Linked DNA regions of Homo sapiens. The protein of the gene in region 1 interacts with the protein of each later gene in a pairwise test. Each region holds a gene or a part of one and is shown in the gene's direction. Other genes may lie near its edges.

Region 1 (7,026 bases):
AAATAGGTGCTCAGTTTTAGTGTTACTTGTTAAAAAAAATGTAGCCTTTCTCATTGAATAACCTTGCCATTCAATAACTTGGCATATTTGTCGGAATATCAGTTGATCTTGATTGCAGGTCTGCTTTTAAACACCGTTTTCTTTATCTGTATAGCTGCCTTCCACCAATACCACAGTCTCTTATTGTTGTTTTATAAAAAATACTGAAATTGGATAGTCAGCCTTTCAGTTTTGTTCTTTGTAAAAAGTTTCTTTTTATTGTCATCAGTTTTAGAATCAACTTGTCAACATTTATAAAAATGCCTGCTGGTTTTTTTTTTTTTTTTTGCTTTTTTTTTTTTTTTTTTTGAGACAAAGTCTCACTCTTGTTGCCCAGGCTGGAGTGCAATGGCGCAATCTTGGCTCACAGCAATCTCCACCTCCCAGGTTCAAGCGATTCTCCTGCCTCAGCCTCCCAAGTAGCTGGGATTACAGGCGCCTGCCACGACGCCTGGCTAATTTTTGTATTTTTAGTAGAGATGGGGTTTCACCATGTTGGCCAGGCTGGTCTCAAACGCCTGACCTCAGGTGATCCGCCCGTCTCGGCCTCCCAAAGTGCTGGGATTACAGGCGTGAGCCACCACACCTGGCCTTTTTTTTTTTTTTTTTTTTTGAGATGGATTCTTGCTCTGTCACCCAGGCTGGAGTGCAGTGGTGTGATCTCGGCTCACTGCAAGCTCCGCCTCCTGGGTTCACGTCATTCTCCTGCCTCGGCCTCCCGAGTAGCTGGGACTACAGATGCCTGCCACCATGCCCGGCTAATTTTTTGTATTTTTAGTAGAGACGGGGTTTCACCGTGTTGGCCAGGATGTTCTCGATCTCCTGACCTCATGATCCACCTGCCTTGGCCTCCCAGAGTGCTGGGATTACAGGCGTGAGCCACTGTGCCTGGCGGCCATCTGCTGGTATTTTTACTAGGATTGCTTTGACTCTAAAGATTAATTTGGGGACAGCTGACATTTTAACAATATTAAGTCTTAGGCCTTGAACTTAGTACATTTCTTCATTTGTTCAGGCTGTCTTCAGTTTCTCTCAGCAGTGGTTTGTATTTTTCAGAGTATAGGGCTAGATTCGGCAGTTGGTACTGAACTTTATTCCAGTGCTTTCTCTGTTTTCCTAGTCCCATGTAGTTTACAACCGTCTTTCCCCACTTGTTTGAAATGCGTAGAAGTTGCAAAATTCTTGTATGTACAATCACATGTCACTTAATGATGGGGATACATTCTCAGAAATGTGTCAGGCGATTTCATCATCATGCCAACATCATGAGAAGTAAGAGTGTACTTAGAGGAACCTAGGCGGTGTAGCCTACCACACACCTAGTCTGCCAACCTGTACAGCATGTTACCGTATTGAATACTGTAGGTAATTGTAACATGGGGAAGTATTTGTGTATCTAAACATAGAAAAGATACAGTAAAAATATATTATAATCTTATGGGACCACTGTTGTATATATCCGGTCCATCACTGACCACAACATCATTATGCGGTGTATAACTACTTGGATCTGTTTCCGAATTTTCTTCGGGGGTTTTGAAAGTTGGAAACAAATGAGAGAAATTTAGTTAAAAACCAGAATAGGCCAGGCACAGTGGCTCACCCCTGTAATCCCAGCACTTTGGGAGGCTGAGGCGGGCGGATCACGAGGTCAGGAGATCGAGACCATCCTGGCTAACACAGTGAAACCCCATCTCTACTAAAAATACAAAAAAATTAGCCGGGCGTGGTGGCGGGCGCCTCCAGCTATTTGGGAGGCTAAGGCAGGAGAATGGCGAGAACCTGGGAGGCTGAGCTTGCAGTGACCCGAGATCGCGCCACTGCACTCCAGCCTGGGCAACACAGCGAGACTCCATCTCAAAAAAAAAAAAAAAAAAAAAAGCAGAATAAACCTAAAGGAAAGAAAATTTATTAGCTACTTTTCAATATTATAGTTTTGTCTATTTTGGCCTTATAGCAGTTTTGAAGAAAACTATATTCTATAATTGATATTTTTAATATTTGAAGTTTTTGATTGGATTAGATTACCATTTTAAAGTATATGCAGAGTCCTTTAGTGCTGTGTATTTTTGAACTTAATACAAGGATTTAATTTCTTTTAAGTTAATCTTATTTAAAATAATTCTATTAGAGTTATATGAATTCCGACTTCTTCTTGTTTCATAGTTTATCTGGAAGAATGTGAACTGGCTAAACAGCTTTATCCAAAGGAAAACGATTTGGTGTTTTTAGCTCCTGAGAGAATAAATGAAGAGAAGAAAGATACAGAGAGAAATGACATACAAGATCTCCACGAATATCATTCTGGTTATGTTCATAAATTTCGCCGCACGTCAGTCAGTAAGTAAATAATGAGGCATTGACAGGAAATGTCAGATACAGTCTCATCTAATAATCTACTTCTCAATTGTGTATATCAAGTGTATTTGATAGACATTTACCGAACATGTTTTTGCTATGTTGATTACATGGCCATTCAGAGTCTCTTTTCTAGTTTTTCTAGACTTAACTGGAAAAGACCTTGTATTTATTTTTGTAATGTTCTATCCTTTTGTTACATTTCTTTATCCATCATTGTGTTTGCTATAAAATGGACCATTTGCAGACCATCTGTTGTTTGTTAAATTACATTTCATCCTTGGTTTTGTGGCCAATTACTAATGAGATGACCAAACATAAAACTCACTGTAAGGCAGCTTGAGGAATCTGCTTACATCACTTCCATCCGTTGTATGTTTCTCCCTAGGTAATTTAATAACAAAAATATTAGCCTAAATTTAATGAATACCAGATGTATGCAGTGAGACTTGTCCCTTTTTTTTTTTTTTTTTTTTTTTTTGAGACGGAGTTTCACTCTTGTTGTCCAGGCTAGAGTGCAGTGGTGCTGTATCGGCTCACTGCACTCTCCGCCTCTTGGGTTCAAGCGATTCTCCTGCCTCAGCTTCCCAAGTAGCTGGGATTATAGGCATCCGCCACCAGTCCCGGCTAATTTTTTGTGTTTTTAGTGGAGACGGGGTTTCACCATGTTGACTAGGCTGGTCTCGAACTCCTCACCCCCATCAACCTCCCAAAGTGCTGGGATTACAGGCGTGAGCCACCGCGCCCAGCCGAGACTTGTCCTTCTTATGTACATTTATAATCTTCCCCAAAGCCCCAAAAGGTAGAAGAAATTATTCCTTGCTCCCCAGGAAATCATGGTTCAGGGATGTTAAGTAAACCTATTTTCAAGGCTGTCATCAGTGTTAATTGGTAAGTCCAGAATTGAAGCCTGCTTTTGTTGACTGCAAAGTCCACATTGTTTTTCTTATGCCAAACTGCCTTTTTGGCAATTGCAACTTTTTTAGTCTTAGTTATGTGAAGAGAAGAACATTATTTCATTATTCCTTCTCCTTTTTGCATGATATATTAATATAGCAATAAAGTGTGTCAACATTGTACTGCATTATAACAGGTGTACCATGTTTATTTGTGTGATCAGGGCTTAATTCTGTAGAATATAGGATACATTTAGAAGAGTTGCAGTGAGGATTGATGGCTTACTCTGTGCTTTTGGCTCTTGAAAATGATTACCTTTGCCAAATTTATAGTTCTAAGGCAGTCTCATTCCCTGAACTCCTCATAGATCAAAATCATGTCTTGGATACCTCCATTTGGAAATGTGTTAGACATTTCAAATCCACTAGTCCAAAAGTTAACACTTGATTTTCTGCCTGACATCTGCACTTCCTTCATTCTTTCCCATCTTGTTAATTGGGGCCTCACTTCTTTCAGTTACTCAGGCCAAAAACCTTGGAGTTATCCATGATCCTTACTTTCTCTCACACCTCACTTCTAATTTGTCAGCAGATATGATTGATTTTTCCTTTGCAATATATCCCAAATCCAGTTCCCACGTCTACTAGTGCCTCCTGGTCCAAGCTGTCATTAACTTTTACCTAAATTACTATGGTAACCTTGTAAGTGGTCTTTTTGTTTCTGTACTTTTCTCATTGTAGTTATTCTTTGTTCTGAGGTAAGAGTGGTTCTTTTAGTTTGTGAGATAGAGCATGTTATTTCCCTACACAGAGTGCCCAATGGTTTTCTACCCTGATCCTGAATAGCGTTCAGAGTCATTACTGTGATCTGCACAGCCCTATAAAATGTAGCCCCGTTTTACTCTGAGTCGCTAAGCGTTCTTCTCCCTATTTTTCCTTCTATCCATGTTAGCCTTCTCCCTATTTCTAAAATATTCCTGGCACATCTCTGTCTTACGATCTTTGCAGTTGCTTATTTTCTGCATGTAGTACTATTTACCCTCTGCTGAGTACTGTTTACTCCCTTACTTCAAGTCTCTGCTCAAATATTTCATCAGGAAGACCTTCTCGGACCAGCTTATCTGCCTCCATCCCCATCACTTCCTCCCTTTGTGTGCTTTCTTCAGAGCACTTACTACCACCTGACATATTTATTTGGTTATCTGCCTCCATCTTCTAGAAAATAAGCCTCCGGAGGACAGAACATTACTGGGTTCAGGAAGCAGTCCATAAATATTTACTGGGTAAATTATGTAAATAATATCCAAAAATATGTTAAAAATACCTAATTCTGCATGACCTTTACAACTAGGCAGCATTATTCAGTGATAACTGAAGTTGCTTTTTCTCTTTCTTGATGATAGTGCGTAATGGGAAAACTGAGTGTTACCTTTCCATCCAGACTCAAGAGAACTTTCCGGCCAATTTAAACGAACTTGTGAATTGTATTGTAATCAGTTCTCTGGTAACTACACAAAGGAAGTTGAAAGCCATGTCTCTGTTGGGTAGTCGGAACCAACTGGCTAGAGCTGTTCTGAATCCAAACCCTATGGACTTCTGTACAAAAGATTTACTGACTACAACATCTGAGAGAATTGTGAGTGATGATGTATGATACTAGATAATTTCATGTTAAGATGTTAAAGCATCATATTTTTTAGCTGCTATGTATTCCTATATGTTTACAACAAAAATGTGTTCACGGTGAACAGTTTAGTGTTAGTTTTCTTTAGTATTGCAAAGTATGTAATTTAGGTTAAGTCAGCTCACTTCAGGAAAAGGTACAGTACAATAAGCGTCGAAGGTTGCTGGAAGAGCAACATTAAAATGTTAGGTCAGCAGCCTACTTAATGTGCATTAGGTGAGAAGTCTCAGGTTTAGTGGTGTTAAATTTACATTTGAATGATTGATGGAGAATTGGCCGGTATTGTTGGAAATGCAAAGATGAAGTTGTCAACTGAACATGTGAAGCTGTGTATAAACTCTAGGAAGTTAACAGAGAAATGCAAAAGGAAACTAACTATTTAGAAACTCTAGAGCTGTATGCTATGGCTTTCATGTGCATTATCTCAGTCTGTTCTCACCTCTTAAGGAATCCTAGATTTAATGAGTAACAGAGGCCAAGGCTTGGGTTAGGAGCGTAGTGGCCTAGCTTGTAAGTGCAAGTGAAGCTTACACCCAGATCTTCCCCTGGCATACATGCTTTTTCCACTGTATCACATGTGCTAGGAAATAAATAGTCTTGGGATGTTTTCACTAAGGAGAAAATTGACTAAAGAAGGAAAAAAACAGAGTAGTAAATAGAAGAAAAGTTGTGGATTAGTAAATGCAATTTATTGTGATTATCTTTGTAAGAATAAAAAATAAAAGTACAGTTGTATTTGTAAGTACTTGAAGCGTTACAGACACTAATTAGTAATTAGTAAGTAATTAGCTTTCTTTCCAGTAGTGAACGTGCTTTTTAGATTAAAGGTCACTTTGGTGTCCTTGTCTTGTCTGACCATAACCAAAGCTTTTGTCTCATGCATTGAAAGAAATTTGGACAGGTCTTTTTCATGTTCTTCCTTTCAAATTCCACTACAGAAACAGCAACTCATTCTCAAAAATGTGTTTTTTATATAGATTGCGTACTTAAGAGATTTCAATGAAGATCAAAAGAAAGCAATAGAAACTGCATATGCTATGGTGAAACACTCACCATCAGTTGCCAAAATCTGCTTGATTCATGGACCACCTGGAACAGGAAAATCAAAAACTATTGTTGGCCTCCTCTATCGTCTACTGACAGAGGTAGGTATGGGTGAGGGCACTGATGCTGTTAACTAGCTGTATCATTTTACTTTACTTGAGTTAACTGACATGTAAATAAGTATTAACATGCCATTTCCTCTTTGATTTGTATATATTTTTTATATTGTGTGTAACTGTGTCAGAGAAAAGGGTGGCAGAGGGAGGGAAGGTTATGGGAAATAAAAAGAGGAAAAAACCACTATCTTATGTGAAACAAATCGTAAGGACTAGAATGATGGTCTTCAGGCTTCACGGTAGGTCACGTAGAATGCTGTGAATGCTGGGCTGCATTTTGGTTGGATTGTGGTTTTTTGTTTTTTTTTTTTGAGACAGTGTCTCGCTGTCATCCAGGTTAGGGTACAGTGGCACGATCTTGACTCACAGCAACCTCTGCCTCCCAGGTCAAGTGATTCTCCTGCCTCAGCCTCCCGAGTACCTCCCTAGTGGCTGGGATTACAGGCGTACACCACCACCCACAGCTAATTTTTGTATTTTTAGTAGAGATGGGGTTTCGCCATGTTGGCCAGGCTGGTCTCGAGCTCCTGACCTCAAGTGATCCGCCCGCCTCGGCCTCCCGAAGTGCTGGGATTACAGGCGTGAGCCACTGTGCCTGGCTTGGATTGAGTATTCATTAAAGTAAGTGGATGATAAAGTAAGGCTCAGAGCAGTTATGACAAATTTTTTTGCTGGAGTAATTTTAAATATCAGTGTTAGATGTAGATGCTTTTATTTATTTTTAACTTTATTACGAGAACTTTCAAAAATACATGGAAGTAAAGACAAACTTTAAAGCTATGTAATAGAGCTCACCCATATTTTTTGTGTGTTTGTTTGGTATGTATATGTGGCAAATTGTAGAACCAGAGGAAGGGGCATTCAGACGAAAACTCCAATGCCAAAATCA
Region 2 (7,026 bases), on another chromosome or scaffold:
GGATCCTCCTACACTGGCCTCCCAAGTGCTGGGATTACAGGCATGAGCCACCATGCCTGGCCTTTTCCTGTCATTCTCATGGCATTTATCAGAGTCTGTAGTTGAACTTAATCTGGATTGTTATTTGATTAATGTCTCTCTTGCTTGACATGTACGTTGTATAGTTCCTGGTACATGCAAGATGCTCAGTAAATACTTGTTAAGTGAATGAATGAATGACACTTGGTTACTTCATGTTGTATTTTTGCTGAAGCTTGCCATTCATGTAGAAGTGTGTTTGGTGGTACGTGGGTCAGGGGGGGCTCTCCGGTTATTTTATAAGTATAAAAGTATAATTTTATAAGTGTAGCTTAACCCTAATGCAATTTTCTCACATTTTTGGACTTCTTTGGTGTTTAATATAAATAAGGTACTATGTAAGTAGATAACAGCATTGTGGCTTCCAGAAGCAGATTTCAGATAGGAACAGAAATATTGTAGTAATTCAGTGTTGTTTATTTTTCCAGGTTGCCAAGGAAAGTGTACTGCAGTTTTACCCGAAAGCTAATATCGTTGCCTACCATGACAGCATCATGAAGTATGCTATAGTGATTACATTGCAAAGTTGTATAAGGGTTTTGTAAGCCAAATATATAAGCTCAAAGTCATTCAGCTTTTTTAAAAAAAATGATTTTTCTAGAATTATTAAACAGTGGTGGTTTCTGCTTACAGAGTGGCATTCTTTTTACCAGTTCATAAATACATGGTTTGAATGATTTAGAATGGTGAGATAGTTTAATACTTTTAATAAATAAGTTACTTGGAAATTTATAAAGACCTTATATGCTTGCCTTAAGTAAGAAGATATTTTAAACTATGAAATATCCTTATTTATGATGATTCAGACTTTTCTAAAGTGTTTGCCTTTTTTTGTTTAAAAGTTTCCCTCCCAAAATAATCTGTAGTATGACTCTGACTTCTGTAATATAACACTTGGAATTGTGGTAGGGCAGTAGTATTGACAGTACATAAATATATTTATCTCAGTAAAGATAGAGTAAATATATAATTTTGGAGGAGTTGGAGCAAAGGAACTGTGGGCCGAAATTGTCCTTTATCTATGGTGGTTTAGCTTGCAAGTAAATAGTGTTAAAAATAGTCCTTGTTTGAGGTACTGGAATTGAGGTACTTAACACTTTCTCAGGGCATTTGTATCTCCGGATTGTGTTTTTTTTGTGTGTGAGATAGGGTTTTGCGCTTATTGCCCAGGCTGGAGTACAGTGGCATGATCTTGGCTCACTGCAACCTCCGCCTCCTGGGTTCAAGCGATTCTCCTGTCTCAGCCTCCTGAGTAGTTGGGATTACAGGCGCACGCCACCACACTCAGCTAATTTTTGTATTTTAGTAGGCGGGGTTTCATCATGTTGGCCAGGCTGGTCTCAAACTCCCGACCTCAGGTGATCCACCCGCCTTGGCCTCCCAAAGTGCAGGGATTACAGGCGTGAGCCACTGCACCCGGCCTGTATCTCCGGCTTGTTTTTTAGTTTTTTACTCTGTGAACCTGCCTGTAGCCCTATAACCTCCTTACCCTGTGTTGCTTTCCCAGTGCTGCTAAAAACAGAGACCCTAGGGGCCTGAACCCTGCCTGATCCTGATCATGTGAGGTGAAGTCAGAGGCCAGGCAGATCCTGGGAATGTGTTCTTTATGCGTTCCCAGGCACTTGCTGCCCAAAGAAGGCCTAGTGGGACTAGTGAAGTCATGCCATCTTTCTGCCAGTTTGAGATCTTTCTCTTGTGCCCTAGCTGGCCAAAAAGGATAGGAATTTGAAGGAAATAATTTCTTTAAAATCTGCTTATGTTTGGAAAGAGTCAAACCTTACTATCTATATGACATATAATCCTGATATCAGTTTTGTTTACAGTTACTATGTTTTTTTCAGAACTGTTTATTATACTGCAAAGATCATGTGGAAGGCTAGTTATTTTGGTGACCTTTTTTTATTTTGTTTTGTAGCCCTGACTATAATGTGGAATTTTTCCGACAGTTTATACTGGTTATGAATGCTTTAGATAACAGAGGTGAGGTTATTTTAATACTTTTAATTTCTCAGTATTTCCTCTCTCCCATATCAAATTTGTTTACAAATTTAATATTTATTAGACTATTGTGATTTAGAACTTAAAAGACTTAAGAGAAATGATCGAGTTTAAAGCATGCCCATTGATTGCAGTTTTATATAGAAATGACTTATTCCAGGCGGGAATTTAGCTATCATATTCTCTGCATTTCTACCAAAAGGTATAAATAGAAGTGAAGTGAAAAGCTCTCAAAAAGTGTGACTGTGGCTCAGCACAGTGGCTCACGCCTGTAATCCCAGCACTTTGAGAGACCAAGGCAGGAGGATCACTTGAGGTCAGGAGTTCGAGACCAACCTAGTCAACATGGTGAAACCGTCTCTACCAAAAAACACAAAAATTAGCCGGTGTGGTGGCATGTGCCTGTAGTCCCAGCTTCTCCGGAGGCTGAGGTGGGAGAATCGCTTGAAGCCAGGAGGCAGAGGTTGCAGTGAGCCTAGATCACACCACTACACTCCAGCCTTGGTGACAGAGTGCGACCCTGTCTCAAAAAAAGAAAAAGTGTGACTGGAGGGTGGGGTGGGGGATGCTTGAGTGATATTCTTTGTCTGTAATTACTTCCACATGTAAAAGTATATCTACTAAGTGAGTTTACAACAAGTTGGGCCAGAAATATCTAAATAAAAAACACAAGGAAAAGTCAAAATTACGTTTATTTTTTAAGGCTTGGGGGGTCTCACTGTTGCCCAGACTAGAGTGCACTGGTGTGATCATAACTCACTGAAGCCTTCAAATGGGCTCAGGTGATACTCTTACCTCAACCTCTGCAGTAGCTACTCTGCAGACAGGTACCACCATACCCGGCTAATTTTTTTATGTTTATTTTTGTAGGGATGAAGTCTTGCTTTGTTGCCCAGGCTGGCCTCGAACTCCTGGCTTCAAGCAGTCCTCCCACCTCAGCCTCCCAGAATGCTGAGATTATGGGCATGAGCCAGTGCTCCTGGCGTGAAATTACTCTCTTAACCTGACTCATCTTTTTTCCCTAGCCTTAAACTACTTTAATAGTTCCAAGTTGATATTCCACATTCTGCCTTCATTTCTATCATGTATTATCTGCTAGTTATATTAGAATAGTGGTGAGTTTAGGAACACCTTGAAACAGTGTTTTGTGTAAGGTACAGCAATAGAAGAGAAATATGGCACGTTGGATTTTTAAGATTATGTGTTTCTGTGGGTACTTCTCCTGGAGTAAATTTGTGATATAAATTCTATTTGATATTTTGCTAAGTGAATGTCTCTTAAATGTCTGTAATTAACAGTTGTATTATTCTGGCCATAGCTATAAGAAAATTGTACAAAAAATGAAGCCAGTAAGATAGTTTTGAGTCTGTGTCATCCTAATTAAAGATAACTAATTTTTTTTTTCCCAAAAACTCATACTGTTTGTTTTACTTCCAGCTGCCCGAAACCATGTTAATAGAATGTGCCTGGCAGCTGATGTTCCTCTTATTGAAAGTGGAACAGCTGGGTATCTTGGACAAGTAACTACTATCAAAAAGGTAAAGAAAAGTTTTATTTTTTTAACTTCCCAAATATTTATTTGAGACCTTGGAGCAGGAGGAAATAAACTTTGTATTTATATAAAATGAACAGGTGAACATCCAAAATGTAAGGACTTTTATGCTTATATAAAACTTAAAATGCGGGGCCAGGTGCAGTGGCTCATACCTGTAATCCCAGCACTTCGGGAGGCCGAGGTGGGCGGATCACCTGAGGTCAGGAGTTTGAGACCAGCCTGGCAAGCATGGTGAAACCCCATCTCTACTAAAAATACAAAAATTAGCTGGACATGGTGGCCGGCGCCTGTAATCCCAGCTACTTGGGAGGCTGAGCCAGGCGAATCACTTGAACCTGAGAGGCAGAGGTTGCAGTAAGCTGAGATTGCACCACTGCCCTCCAGCCTGGGCTACAGATCAAGCCTCTGTCTCAAAAAACAAACTTAAAATGCTATAAACGTGCTCAAAAGACTATGGGCAAGGAAATCTTTCAGCTCTGCCATTTTGTTTCATTTGACTTTTGTATTAAAATCCTTAGAGTGGTAAGCATGATATACCAGGCATCAAAAATTTCTTTGTGTCGGCTGCGTGCAGTGGCTCATGCCTGTAATCCCAGCACTTTGGGAGGCTGAGGTAGGCAGATGACTTGAGGTCAGGAGTTCGAGACCAGCCTCTCCAATGTAGTGAAACCACGTCTCTACAAAAAATACAAAAATTAGCTGGGTGTGGAGGCGTGTACCTGTAATCCCAGCTAGTTGGGAGACTGAAGCATGAGAATTGCTTGAACCTCGGAGGTGGAGGTTACAGTGAGCCAAGATGGCACCACACTCCAGCCTGGGCAACAGAGTGAGACTCCATCTCAAAAAAAAAAAGCCAGGCGTGATGGCTCATGCCTGTAATCCCAGCACTTTTTGGGAACCCGAAGCGAGCGGATCACCTGAGGTCAGGATTTTGAGACCAGCCTGTCCAACATGGTGAAACCCTGTCTCTACTAAAAATACAAAAATCAGCGGGCGTGGTGGTGTGCACCTGTAATCCCAGCTACTTGGGAGGCTGAGGCAGGAGAATCCCTTGAACCGGGGAAGCGGAGGTTGCGGTGAGCTGAGATCACGCCATTGCACTCCAGCCTGGGCAACGAGCGAAACTCTGTCTCAAAAAAAAAAAAACCAAAAAATTCTGTTGTCTAAGAGTCTGGGCTTATAATGTGGAAGGGAACTTTGAAAACTTTTTAGGGGTGTATTTGTGAAGTACTTCAAACATTTAAATACAACTAGAGAATAATAGAACAAAATACCTGTGTGCTCATACCTCAGTTTTGTTTTGGTTTATTTATTTATTTGTTTATTTTTTTGAGACAGAATTTCGCTCTTGTTGCCCAGGCTGCAGTGCAGTGGCGCGATCTCAGCTCGCCGCAACCTCCGTCTCCCTGGTTCAAGCGATTCTCCTGCCTCAGTCTCCCGAGTAGCTGGGATTACAGGCGTGCGCCACCACGCCTGGCTAATTTTGTATTTTTAGTAGAGACGGGGTTTCTCTATGTTGGTCAGGCTGGTCTTCAACTCCTGACCTCAGGTGATCCACCTGCCTCGGCCTCCCAAAGTGCTGGGATTATAGGTGTGAGCCGCCATGCCTGGCACATATCTCAGTTTTTAAAACCTCAACACGGCTTCATTTGCTATTCAGATATTTTTTCTTTCAGTTCTTTTAAGAAGTTAAATATTGTAGTTACATTTGAAGAGTCGTTTTCCATGTTTTGAAACTATAGAAAGAGAATTATAATGTACTTAACATTTGCTGGTTGCGTCTAATTTTTTTTGGCAGCTTATTCATGTTAGAAATTGTGTCTTTGTTTCTTTTAACTGTTAAATGTTATTCTTGGAACCTTATTGAATACCATTCTACAAAAGACTGTTGTGTATGTCAGTGCGTATTAAGTTGTTGAATAAGTGGAGGCCTTCAGTATCTGTTGACAGATCAAGACGGAAGTTCTCTGTCTGCATTGCAGTATGAGTCTCATGACTGCTTGCCATGTGGCTACCCTCAAGAAAGCATATTGGAAGGCTGAGGGCATCAGAAATGGTGTTTCAGAGAAAACTCTAAATCTGCTGCAATTTATATTAAAACAGTATTTGAGAGTTTTGATTCTTGAACAATTAGCCTGGCTAATTTTTGCATTTTTGGTAGAGATGAGGTTTTGCCATGTTAGCCAGGCTGGTCTCAAACTCCTGACCTCAGGTGATCCGCCTGCCTTGGCCTCCCAAAGTGCTGGGATTACAGGTATGAGCCACCACGCCCGGCCAGACATTGCTTTTTATATCCTTGTTACTGTGATTCTGACACACCACTGTGTATTAAGACTGAAGGTGGCTGGGCATGGTGGCTTACGCCTGTAATCCCAGCACTTTGGGAGGCCAAGGCGGGCGGATCACCTGAGGTAAGGAGTTCGAGACCAGCCTGGCCAACATGGTGAAACCCCATCTCTACTAAAAATACAAAATTTAGCTGGGTGTGGTGGCACGCACCTGTAATCCCAGCTACTTGGGAGGCTGAGGCAAAAGAATCACTTGAACCCGGGAGGCAGAGGTTGTGGTGAGCCTAGATCACGCCATTGCACTCCAACCTGGGCAACGAGCGAAATTCCGTCTCAGACAAAAAGAAAAAAAGAAGAGACTGAGGTTAGGAATATCTGAGATAATGAAAGATGATTCATTTGATAGTTTTGAAAAGTTGTCTCAGGTGTCATGTACTTCTTCCAAGGCATAAATTCCTTAAATTGTAATTTTAAACTTGAATGTGTATCAATAAAATGGGCTGGGCGCAGTGGCTCACGCCTGTAATCCCAGCACTTTTGGGAAGCCAAGGCGGGCGAATCACATGAAGTCAGGAGTTCAAGACCAAGCTGGCCAACATGGAAAAACCCCGTCTCTACTAAAAATATGAAAATTAGCTGGGAGTGGTGGGAGATGCCTGTAATCCCAGCTCTTTGGGAGCCTGAGGCAGGAGAATTGCTTGAACCTGGGAGGCGGAGATTGCAGCCAAGATTATGCCACTGTACTCCAGCCAGGGTGACAGAGCAAGACTCCGTCTCCCCACCGCCAAAAAGAAACGTATATCAATAAAATGAAGAGTATTTGGTTTAGTAACACCTAAGATTTTTCTGTGTAGGGAGATATATCTTGAAATTAATCTTGTAGTTTACTTAATTTCAGGAGATTATAAGGATATGGCTGTATTCCCCAGACCCACTTAGTTTTGCTCAAAAAAAAAAAAAAAACACATATAAGAAAATGGCTGCGAATAATATTTAGATAACATTTACAACTTTGAGAAATAATTTCTTGGAAAGCTGCTGTTTGTCTTTCCAGTAGTTTTTCTGTTTAGTGTGATCAAGGTAAACTCATATTTGACACTCAGGTGT

What was found. Proteins that work in one complex are often made in the same cells at the same time.
Region 2: the proteins of SETX (region 1) and UBA2 interact in a two-hybrid assay, tested with the Homo sapiens proteins (one study listed by BioGRID and IntAct).

The regions. Positions count from the first base shown.
Region 1 is NC_000009.12:132,295,983-132,303,008, reverse strand, and holds part of SETX (probable helicase senataxin), read left to right. Parts: intron 1-2,205; coding exon 2,206-2,379; intron 2,380-4,696; coding exon 4,697-4,929; intron 4,930-5,954; coding exon 5,955-6,122; intron 6,123-6,980; coding exon 6,981-7,026. UniProt on the Homo sapiens protein: Probable RNA/DNA helicase involved in diverse aspects of RNA metabolism and genomic integrity.
Region 2 is NC_000019.10:34,431,355-34,438,380, forward strand, and holds part of UBA2 (SUMO-activating enzyme subunit 2), read left to right. Parts: intron 1-506; coding exon 507-577; intron 578-1,993; coding exon 1,994-2,058; intron 2,059-3,513; coding exon 3,514-3,614; intron 3,615-7,026. UniProt on the Homo sapiens protein: The heterodimer acts as an E1 ligase for SUMO1, SUMO2, SUMO3, and probably SUMO4. It mediates ATP-dependent activation of SUMO proteins followed by formation of a thioester bond between a SUMO protein and a conserved active site cysteine residue on UBA2/SAE2.